2 linked regions of the Homo sapiens genome follow. The protein of the gene in region 1 interacts with the protein of each later gene in a pairwise test. Each region holds a gene or a part of one and is shown on either strand. Other genes may lie near its edges.

Region 1 (4,897 bases):
TGAGGTGGGTCACGGGCTCTTCTGGAAACACTTTACACTGCTGGAATCACACAACAACTATAAGACATTGTAAGGAACTAGGGCTTGTTGTGGGTTCAAGGCTGTATAGAATGAATACATAAGAATGAGTATATGTGTACGTGTATAAACAACCACAGTAAACTGGCTGAACTCTTCTGGAAAACATGGAACCTTGTACATGAGCCTCATAAATGTTTTTAGCTTTTGGTCCAATGACTCTACTACTTCTAAGAGTTTGTACTAAGAACTCCACAAAAAGTATAAATAAGTAGTAATATAACAATATCCACTACAGGGGTAAGCTGGACATAATGAAAACATCTAACCATTTGGTTAGAATTAAGTAAATCAGAATATAGTTGATGGACTACTATGTAGCCATTTAAGATACATGCTTTTGAAAATTAAAGAAACAGGGAAATGATTATAATACTGTTAAGTAAAGTAACAAAATAAAACACCATATGTAAACCTCTGGGTTTGTGAAATAATTTGTTTTATAAACATTCCTGAGTTTTCAACCATACATTCTTTTTACAATACGACAAACAAAACAATGAAAGATATTCAAAACAAGGTTCCAAGGTTGGCCCAACTTGATTGTTTGGGTACTTGTTTTTTTAGTAACTCTGTAACTTTTTTAAAGGAAGCTTTTAATGAAGATACACCACTGAGTCTTGCTTTAAGACCAAAAATATCCAAACATAGTATCACATTATATATATCTCATAAGAAAAGCTATTCTATCAGGTAACAAAAATGAAGCTTCCCCCTCACCTAGCAGTTCATCTGGAATGCATCTTGAAAAGATCAATGGCCTGTTGGACTCAAAGAAGCCATCCCCAAAAAAATTGTATAAAAAGATTTATTGAAATTTATCAATGACAAACAGACATAAAACTCAAAGTTTGGCTCTTCTGAGGGGCAGGAGAAAAACTGGTGCAGATGTTCTTTTATACAGATGAAACATGGGTTCAGAAATTACACGTCACTTCTAAAGCAACCAGAAGAGGGACACGAAAGCAAACCTGTACATTCACTAGGAATTTGCAGTCATTTCAGATTTCCACTAGGTAAGAAAATACAATTTTGCGTTAGTTTTTCCGTGCTCGGGTGTATGAAAAAAAAAACCCAGCCGACATGCAGCAACGTCTCCAGCGCTTAGGTCCGTAAAAATGTTCTAAGCACAGAAGTACATGTGGAAGAATTCTCTCATCATTTTTTGTAAAACAAAGCGTTCTAATATTTTACAGAACAAGATAGGACAGTTTTTTTTTTCTTTTAAAGAAGTTGAAGTTTGAAGGTGTGTTTCTTCTAATTTTAATTACCAAATCCATTTTCCTTGTAACTTAACACAACAAGCCTGCGGTTTTCAGCTCTCTGGCTCATAAGCTCAAGAGTAACATCAGAGTCCTCTTTGTAGAGCGAAGCCCACCACCATCTGTGAAGGGGGAAAAGGGATGAGAGATGGGGAATGTCCCCAGACCAGTGCCAAAATACGCCTTTAGGTTGCTATTTACAAACCAGGGCGTTGGATGCCTCTAGCAGGCCTGAGAAAAGCAGGTATCATCATGTGAACCAAAGCAAAAGATATGGCTGGTGCTCAGCCCCTCCTGGGCATTGAGTAACCAAACTGAGACCAGCCACAGCCTTCCAACCAACCCAAGAGACTTGGGAAATACCAGGAAACGTAAGAGAACTCCAAACCATCCTCTTTGAGAGTCAGGAACAAATGCTCACTTAGTGTGTACTTAGCTATCGCATTTACAGGGACAAAAACCGGACACAAAGAAAAAGTAGGGGAAAAAAATAAAGAGTGGCAGTAAAAATAGTATTTTATTCCACCCCCACCCGCCATCCCTCCCCCCGCAACCCCCAGTACACTCTTCCCCTCTCGTTCCCACAGCAACGTTACAATCAGAAAAAAATAAGTTTCAGGGGGCAGGATTGGAGGGGGGGGGGAGAGGGGATATGGGTAAAAACAGTCAAATCACAATAGGAATTTTTCAAAATAGGTTATTCCACTTAGTCATCATCTTCTCCCTCATCTTCAGGTTCTCGTTTTCGCTTCTGACCCCTTTCTTCTTCTGGAAAAGTAAGAAAGCGGCATTTAGATTAGTTATTAATCCCACCTCTTTAACTCAACCCACCCAGTGAGAAGTCAGGGGACCCATGACTAGCAAGCTGTGCCATCCTTGGAAACCGAGGCAAGACATCTGCACAGCTGGAAGGGGAATCTGAGGCCTCTGACAGGAGTGTCCTGCCCACTGCCAGGGGCCTCTGAGTCTAAGCAATCTAAGGCCAAAGTGAAAGGGCCAGGCTGCTACCAGCTGAGAGTAAAAAGGCTGCCATACCACCAAGCTCTTCTTCATCTTCCTCGTCATCTACCTCTCCATCGTTATAACCTTCTTCATCCTCCTAGGAGAAAGGACAGACACCAGAACATTAGAAATGCCCTGCCTTGGGACATGCTGAGGAAGCCACACAGAGCACAAAAAGGCCGGGGTCACCCCCAGCCTCTCAGAGCCCCCACCAAGACTTGACATCTCGGGAGGAATGTAAAGCAGAGGTTCTTAATTTATTTCAGATCAAGGACTCATTGGGAAATCTGCAGAAAGCTTTGAACTCCTTCTCCAGAAAATGTCCGTATCATTTATAATATTTGCAAGCAGTTTCAGGGGGTTATGGATTCCAGGACCCAGGTTAAGAACTCTGATCTGAAGTCCCTGTAAGGCAGGCAGCTCTCCAGTCTGCACATTCTCTGAGGAGAACAAGTTCCCGAGCAGACTCCCTGACGTGCAAAGTAGGCCATCCTTTCTTGCATCTGTCCTCAATCTAGTTTTGGCTTCAAGAGAAGACCCCAGTTTAAGCAAATCCAGATTCTGTGGGCAAGTTCAACGTCACCTGACCCAGCCCCTTCCCTAGCTTGCAAACTTGGACCACCTGGAAGGGTTGGGGAAGATAAATTCAAGACCCCCTGAGGACATCATTCCCAACCGGCTTGAGATTCAGCAAGGTGTATGACTTTCTTTCTCAACACAGGGCCCTTGCTTTCCTCTGCTCCTGAAAGTATATGCAAGTTGAATCTCTGCTTGTTAAACCTGGTTCCTGAAGTTTAAAAGAACTTGGTGACAGACTTCTTTTTTGTCAAGGGAAACATTCTTTTAAAATGTCACCAAAGAGTTCCCTCATCAGTCTGTTTGCTAAGGTTCTGGTTTTTTTTTGCATGTATAAGCTCTCCTTTACTGAAAGCTGGAAATATGCAGATGGTCAGTGAGATTATTTAAAAAACAAAAAACAAAAAACAAAATCCACAACCCTCCCCCATCCCCACCCCCCCAAACCTCACATGCAGCACTCCTGTGACAGGAAGAGGAAGATGTAACAGCTATTAGCCAATACAACTTACTGCCCTGTTCTAGGGGAACCTGTTTTACTAAGACTTTATTTTTAAAATACAATATTCTTTAGAGATGAGCCTAAGAGTCTAGACCTAGGGAGAAGGCAAAGCCAGCAGCACAACTAAACAGAAACCAAGCTCATCTGGCCAGCTTTTTTTTTTTTTTTTAACTGAGTCTCGCTCTATTGCCCAGGCTGGAATGCAGCGGTGCCATCTCGGCTCACTGCAACCTCTGCCTCCCAGGTTCAAGCGATTCGCGTGCCCCAGCCTCCTGTGTAGCTGGAATTATAGGCATCCATCAACATGCCTGGCTAATTTTTATATTTTTAGTAGAGATGGAGTCTCGCCATGTTGCCTAGGCTGGTCTCGATCTCCTGACCTCAAGTGATCCGCCCGCCTCGGCCTCCCAAAGTGCTAGGATTACAGGCGTGAGCCACCGCGCCTGGCCTCCGCGATTCTATTGTCATTGGCCTGTGTCTCTCAAGCCTGGGCCGGCTGGCTGGAACTGGAAGACACTATCTGAGTGAGTCCGTGTGGCAAGCGGATGTGTCTGCATCCTCCATTGAGGGAGACAGGAAACTGCGGGGGGAGTTGGGAGGGGACACAGGCGCCTTGTCCATGCTATTGTCACTTTAAAACTCTCTAGTTCTAACTTTTGCAATTAGCAAGAGTTGATTTAGAATTCTGAGCAAGTCATAGAAAATGACTCTGCTACAGAGAGACTCAGAACACACAAACACAAAACCCAACACAGTGCCAGGAACCTGGAGGAGGGTGTGAACGCCTACAATAAGCAGTCAGACACTTACCCCTTGTCAGACACTGTCCTTAAGCATTTTACTTACACTTCACTTTATCCTCTTAACAACCCTGTGAGAAAGCTATCATGATCCCTATTTTACAGATGAAGAAATAGGCTCAGAAAGGTCAGGTAAATTGTCTGGGGACACACAGCTTGCGAGTGGTAGAGCTGGGACTCACCCCCTCACAGATCTTGTTAAAAAACTGGGAACCAGCCAATCTCTTTAGGAAAATGGCCAACTCCTGGTGCTCTATTTCCATAGTGTCACTCTCTGATTTGGGATCCAGCAGTGTTATCCTGCTACCTATCAGTTCAAGGCAGACTTTGGTTTTCCCTAGCACAGTTTAAGTGCTCAATGAATATCTTAATTAGCATATGAAAGCAAAAAGCAGAAAATGGGGCCATGCATTCTGTACTTCTTCACATAGAAACAACGGCCAGGCTTACCCCAGCAGGTTCAGTCCCTGCCTCTAAAATCCTCTTCCCCTCTTCTAATCCAGCCTCCCCAGAGCTTACTGCAAGTCTTGTCTCCCCAGAAACAGCCCAGTGAAAGGCTCTGAAATGGACTCACTTCACTACCCATCGGGGAGCGACTTTCCTAACCAGGGCTCCGGGGCTGCCAAGACTGATCACAGAGGCAGTCAGTGGGACTGCCTCAAAGGGGCAGACGGTGG
Region 2 (7,036 bases), on another chromosome or scaffold:
TTAAAATTGAAAATGGAGGATCATCGCTAACATTTAGTCTCTGTAGAATTTTGTTTAAGAATACTACCAAAAAGGTCATGATCATGAGTGCTATCTCGATAGAATCCCATCATTTAAACAGAGTGTAAATTCCTTCCACTCAAATATTCAATCTATACAATTGGATTAAGTAATCAGTATGAACAAAGCTCCTAGAAGTCTGTGTCGATCTTTAGCTCTCACCATGAATGTACATGGTACATTGTGATGGCTGTTACTAAACTAATCGTGTATTTATGGAACTAGCAAAATTAGGTTAGTCACACAGGCAGGAAAGGTGTCTGGAAGGACAGGAGCAACCTGTAATGCGAATATTGGTTTTCTTGGTATACTCAGGCTCTGTGGTCATATTGAGAACAACGGATGGAGAAAGGTACTGATAGATTTCATAGGAAAAAGAGCCAGCTGACTAGTGACAGTTTTTACATATTTTTCCCATTAAATCCCATAGCAAAAAAAAAAAAAAAAAAAAAGAGAGAGAGAGAGAGAAAGTGAGGAGGGTGGAGTGGTTATAACTGAAGACTGGCTATAATTCTCCTACAATGTTTATAGTTTTTAAAGCAAAATAATGTTCAGGTTAAATACATTTAATTGTGAAATTGGAAAATAACTTGCATCTTCTGTCAAAGAAAAATCAACCAGAGGTCTGGATTTGGCAAGAAGGCTAAAAATCTGGTTTTCTTCCCACGCATTATGTAGACCAATTCAACTTAAGAGCTAACCATTAAATAATTATCTTGAGTATCTTAGGTTGTGTTATAAAATAAATTTGAAGTAGATGAGTTTATACTCAATGAAATTCATTGGCGTCACAATGACTTTTCCATCATGTGTTAATTTCTTGTACCCTTAATATGTTATTTTCCAAGGACTTGAAAGAAATGGGGTAATAAATAAAAGCTGCATTTCTAGAGAAGCCTAACAAAAATAGAATATTAATTTTCTTTAAAAAATTAAACATTTGAAAAATGTAATTCACAGCATTAAGTAGACTGCATAGGTCCTCAGTGAAAGGACCCTGAAGAAGCATTTTTTTAAACCCTCATCATAGTTAGCAGTGCAAAACATAGACTTATCAGACAAAAATCAACTAAAATGTTAATTTTGAAATAAATAACTAACATAGAAAATAAAATGAGGTCATTGTTCTCTACTCCGTAGATCTTAGAGTCTGCAGGAAATGTAATGTGACAGAGCACAGCACAGTTGTCACGGAGAAGTTTGCCTCATCTGAACACTGGGTGCATTGATCTGCAACTTGAAACTTGATGTCAGTGTTAATCATGATCTGGCTTCCCAGGTTCACAGTTCAATGATGACAATGATGGAAATTTTCTCTAAACTCTACATGAACCGTAGGAGTTGAGAATTCATTTGTTTTCAATGTACTATTTCTTTTATTTTTTTTTTCCAGAAAAGAAAATCCCAAAGCAAATTTGTGCTAGGGTTCTTTGAACTTGGCTCTTTTACCTCATGGTTGAAGATCTTGAAAGAAGTATGTAGGATACCACTGGGTGATGTACTTGTCAAGGCCCTGAAAAGTAGCCTACCATGCCATTCTCCCCCACTCTCAAGTAGCACTTTTATGTTATGGGAATCAAGGGGTGGGAGGTATCATTATTCCTGGTAGTTATGGGTTTTTAATAAATATCATTACTGCAATATCAGACTTCAATCTTGCCAGAACTTCAAAAAACATTATTCAATTTTTGTCTTACGAAACACTTAAAAAAAAAGACTATCACTTGAGAATTTTCTTTGCAATTTCCTGTAAATGAAAACATTTGTTAAAAAGTTCATCTATGAAAAGTTCTCACATATCTTAAAAAAAAAATTCTTCTGTACACTTGTTCCCATAATTATGTTGAAATTAATGGAAAATTTAAAAAGCCAATGTAAGACAAAGGAAGGTAAATACTGTACACTTGCTGAGAACCTCTTCCACCATAAGATTCACTGTTTTCCCAGTTCTGATCATAGAAGCCATTTCAGTCTTGAACTTGCAGTAGTAAAGAAGCTGTGAAAGGCACAACTTGTTTGACTGAGAGGCCACAGGTGCACTGAAGTGGGATTCAACACGCATGACTCAGCATCAAACTGTTGGACCAATCAGATCAGCTTCTAGTACCCCCACACACGCTCACCCACGTGTTCCTTTAAGTATCTATAATCCTATATGGATGTTTTATAAACTTGCTGTCTCACATTAAAAAATAAGTGCATCAAGTATCTTTGTACATTCAAGTCACTTCCTAAGGCAAATTGTCTACCATATGTACTCCCAACTGCTTTGGTATTTGCTTCAGTTAATTGGGGTGGACTTGGGTGTTGCTGCATGCAGGTTAATCGACTCAGAGTGGACTAAGTGGGTGGACAAATGCTGGGAGCATGCCTTAGATCAATCTACTTGTGTGTTTAGAGTCTGAGAGTTCTGAATGGGGCCCAAACCACTTGCATGGCCAGTCTACACTCACTACATTATGTCAGTGTGCAGCCTTCAAACTGAAGGAGCTTAATTAAGATGTGAAAATATCACATGCCCTCATAACAAGTGTTGTTCTTTTTACTTTCTTCTAGCCAACTTGTTTTAGAAAATTAAGACTCTTTTTGATGACTCAGACTGACAAAAATGGAAAACTTTGCCTATGTAGACTAAAGAATGCCTACTGCCTGAGAAAATGCAGACCTAATTGTTGGTTTATTTTCTCCTCCTTACCCCACCCTGCTCTCTCTTTTTCTCTCTGGGTATCTCACCAGAACTCTCTGTCATTACATCTCCTTCTCTTGCATTCCTTTTCTTTCTCATTCTTTCTCTCTCTCTCTCCTGCGTTATCTTTGTGCTCTCACTCTCTCTCACTCTCTCCCGCGCTCTCTCTCTCTCTAAGACAAATGCCTCTACCTAGCAGAAGTCAGTTGGGTTGGCTAGTGCATGGTTTCCAAATGTTCAGCAGAGATGAACTGGGGTAGGTAATTTTGCAGGAATTTGAACCCTATTGTGGAAATACTGTTATTTCCCTTAGCAATCAGCAAAAACTGAGAAATTTAGTGACTTGCATCACCATGACACAGTATAGCATTTGGCAGGTAATTGTTCAGCGACTTAACTAGATGAATTGACTTTTTAGAAAAGGTGATTTCAAATTGAAGAATTTCTGGAAACAAAGTTCAGATCCTGTGGTGTGGCTGGCCTTGGTTTTTACAGTTCAATCTTGCATGCAGGGAAGGATTCATCTTGCATAACCACTGTGCTGCTGCTTGCTAAAACCATGATGTTGAGATCTTGCTGTTTCTCATGGGTCTCCTGGTACCATTCCCTCATCACTTCTGAGTCATGAGTTGGGATCAGTGTCACCTGCAGGGAGAGAAAAAAAAAATAGCTATTTAAGGGCAGAAACAGAAACCATATGAAAAAAATTGAATAGCAAGGTATTAGACCACTGGAAGAAGAAGGGAAATGAGAGAAAACTTTTCTATTTTCCTCAAGAAATGCAAAGGATTTTTCAATGTATATTTTCCAGGAACCAGAATAAAGCTGCAAAGAAAAGCTATTGTTTCTAAGGGAAACTGAAGGCTGGAACCAAAAAGCAATTAATCAGTTTCTCAGTTCTTTACTGTTAAGAGAAGTGCTTCCGTTAGGGTACAATTTTTTGTATTTCCTTTAACACAACTGGTAAGTTTTGCATAAAAGATATTGCATATTTAATCCAAGGATTTTATCGCGCACTTCAAAGCCCTCAAAAGCCCACTCATTGTGAGTAACTAACATTTTGTCCTGAGAACAAAGATCTGCACCTTTACTTTATGTGTGTGGTTGGGGATGGAGGTATGGGGTGGGTAAGTAATGTCCTGAATAGTATAAATTCCATCTAGCATTCAGTAGGGAGCCACTGGGTGCCTCTCATTAGATTTCATATGATTAAATAACAAGTAATTCTATATAATATGATACAAGCACAATTTACTAGGTAATTTTGTACAGAACCACAAATAAAACTTGATAAGCAAAGATCACAGCTGAATTAATAATAGCTGGTTCTAAGAATCATTTAAGGCCAGGAGTTCGAGACCAGCCTGGGCAACATAGGGAGACCCTGTCATTAAATAAATAAGGGATGGTTTGTGGTCAGGCATGATGTTTGGGAGTTGGGAGTGTCCTGTGAGGGACTATATTCAGCAATGCTCCTGCTGTGGAATTTCACATGGAGAGCTGTTTTTCTAAATGGCCATATTCCTAGCCGCAGTCTACTCATAAAACACAAAGGAAGAAAGGCAATTCCTCAGGAGCTCTCATATGGAAATATGACCGCTTTGATTCACACACACAAGACTCTTGGCATACTGGAGGAAGGGCAATTAATCTTAGGCCCATTTTGCAGATAAATGGTTTCTGCTTTAGTTAAGGTGTCTTTCCTCCAAGGCCGTGGTTGGTGGTGGTGCCAAGAATATTATTTCAGACTACCTACTGTGTGTTAAACTGACTTTGTTCTCAGGATATTTCGTGTGTGACAGACACAGGAGGCACCTCATGTGGATCCACGATCAGCCACATGAGGTGCCTCTTTAAACATGGTTCCTTCCCATTGCCTCTGGACACAGCTCAATCGGCAGTGCAGACACTGTCGAGGAGTTCTCACCTGCATGTTGCTGCCCCACTGAGCCTTTCCTTCCAACAAAGCGTCCAGGACAGCCCGGCTGGGCTCCTCAGCAGCAGGGTCATTCCCACTCACCACGTAGTAGGAAGACCGCACTCTCTTGAAAAATTCCACATCAACATTCTTACTATTGCTGTGGTTAGGAATGTAGCACAGGTCCAAATACACAGGGAGGCCTGGGGGCACAGCAGATGACTTGGTCGTCTTGGTAGTTCCTGGTCCTTGGGTAAATAAACAAAGACAAAGCAAGGTCATAGCAAGGTGAAGAGACCATACATCCAGCACATGTTCCCCACTCAATCACACCTTCCCTATTCAATCACAAGTAGGTCCTCTGAGACATGCAAAGTGGTGACAGCATTTCCATCTCCCTGGTAATCTGTCAAGGGCATTTACGCTAGCAATGTGACAAAACATAACATGGTTGTTTACCACCTCAATAGGAGAAATGAAGAATGGGATAGTTTCCCTTTGTGGACAACCAATATTAGGAAGCAAGAAGAGTTTGAAGGCCTTTCCCAAGATGGCACTAGATATAATACTCCTCCTAAAGAAGTTGTTAATGTGTTTCTTTATTTGATAAGTGATCTAAGAAGTAGATTTTAAAAGTCAAAAGAAAACGTCTGTATTTGGCAAAACATAGCTAAGTGATCTTAGTGCTCTATTTTAGGGTCTCATTGATAGCAATTTTGTCCACAGCTGGATATTATACCCTAACATTCTACCTAGCAAATAGTTTTGATCTTAACCCCATATGATTTCCAAGGCCCTCAGCACCTCCATCTCATTCATAAACTGATGAAACACCATATTCTCTCCTTAGCACAGTATTCTGAAAAGTGATACTTCTTTCCCTAGACAAGGCTGGATGCCAAACTTGGGCAAAGGAAGGTTCAGAAAGACTAGGCTTTCTCTAGCTAATCAGGACATATCAGACTGCAACCAAAACCCCCAGTCAAATCACAAAGGTCTGGGAAAACTAACTTGTTCCAGTTAGGAAGTTTAAAGCTTTTGAAATGTTAATAGAACTAGCATTTTGAGGCAGTGGTTCTTCAGCCTGACTATATAATCAGAATCACCTCGGATGCTTAATACTGACACCCAGGCCTCATTCTCTAGAGTCTGACTTAAGTGGGCTTGGGTTGGGGCCTGGAACTACTGTCTTTTAAAAGCACCCCAGGCGATTCTAATATGCAGCTGGTTTCATTGCTGTAAAGCCAATTAAAACACCAGCTAGATTTTACATGCTTAATCCTCTTTCTCCATAGGATATTTAAAGACTATCATCCCAGATTGAAAACCACCAGCTAATTCTATCAACTGTACAGTTTTATTTTTAGAGAGGTTAGGGAGTGGTGAGAATCAGCCAAAGTAATAATTGGATAAGCTAATTCATTCTATGAATAGATCAATAGTTTATTTTAATGAATCTGAGCCGAAAGCCCTCAAAATATCCAAAGAATTCCTAAAGAATTCTGACTTGTACTAGAAGTTTGTGAGTTACAGTTCTTCCAGTAATTAAACATGTCTGCCAATTTCGCCCTCTACTCTAAATCACTACCATCAACATCAAATGAATATTGCTCACAGAAGCACAAACTGACAGAACTGCCCAGGTTTGCTTTAAAAGTCAATTAGTACTGCAACTTTGCCTTTTTAGACATCTAAAAGCATCTCCAAAATAAATGAAAATTAACTCATTTTCACTTATTACTTTGCCTTTAAATTACCTCTTTAAATGTCCAAAAAAAGTTTTTTTAAAAATTGTGTGGGCTAGGATGTATATGTTCTGGCAAATTTGCAGTTGGTTTTATCTGTTTAAATGGATTTCATGTTTTCTCCTAAGTGCAGGTCAGTTGTCAACTCTTTCAGATGAAAGGGTTAATTATCTGGTGGTTTTTCATTCATTTTAAACATGAAAAAATTCCGATTATTTTCTATGTGCATGTAGAAAGGCCAAATGTGCTGAGAACTGAGCCTTAAAATTGATACTCCATATTGTTTAAAGTAAAAATTTGCAGTTTTAACAAATGTATCCTAAAGTGTACTTAATTGGAGAGCTCCAAAGATTACTCTATCAGATTTTCCCTAATAAATCAGGGCAATGTTATTTAAATTATGTTGTGCCTTACATGTTTGGGTCCATTTACATTACTTTGTGAATTGTGATCTAAAAATCTCTGAATAATTACCTAAAGCAAATAAAATGTATGAATGCCAATCCTTGTGATTGATGTGAAGCAACAAAATGAAGCAGTACTGCCATAGACCAGTTCCATCAAAAGCCCAGGTCATTGCTGAGAACCTGATAAATCTGAGAATCATGACCAAAAACATGAATGATC

What was found. Proteins that work in one complex are often made in the same cells at the same time.
Region 2: the proteins of ANP32A (region 1) and MAP1B interact in a two-hybrid assay, tested with the Homo sapiens proteins (one study listed by BioGRID).

The regions. Positions count from the first base shown.
Region 1 is NC_000015.10:68,778,035-68,782,931, forward strand, and holds the end of ANP32A (acidic leucine-rich nuclear phosphoprotein 32 family member A), read right to left. Parts: intron 2,440-4,897; coding exon 2,376-2,439; intron 2,109-2,375; coding exon 2,047-2,108; 3' UTR 501-2,046; downstream 1-500. UniProt on the Homo sapiens protein: Multifunctional protein that is involved in the regulation of many processes including tumor suppression, apoptosis, cell cycle progression or transcription. Promotes apoptosis by favouring the activation of caspase-9/CASP9 and allowing apoptosome formation.
Region 2 is NC_000005.10:72,201,439-72,208,474, reverse strand, and holds part of MAP1B (microtubule-associated protein 1B), read right to left. Parts: intron 4,913-7,036; coding exon 4,674-4,912; intron 3,392-4,673; coding exon 3,236-3,391; 3' UTR 1-3,235. UniProt on the Homo sapiens protein: Facilitates tyrosination of alpha-tubulin in neuronal microtubules. Phosphorylated MAP1B is required for proper microtubule dynamics and plays a role in the cytoskeletal changes that accompany neuronal differentiation and neurite extension.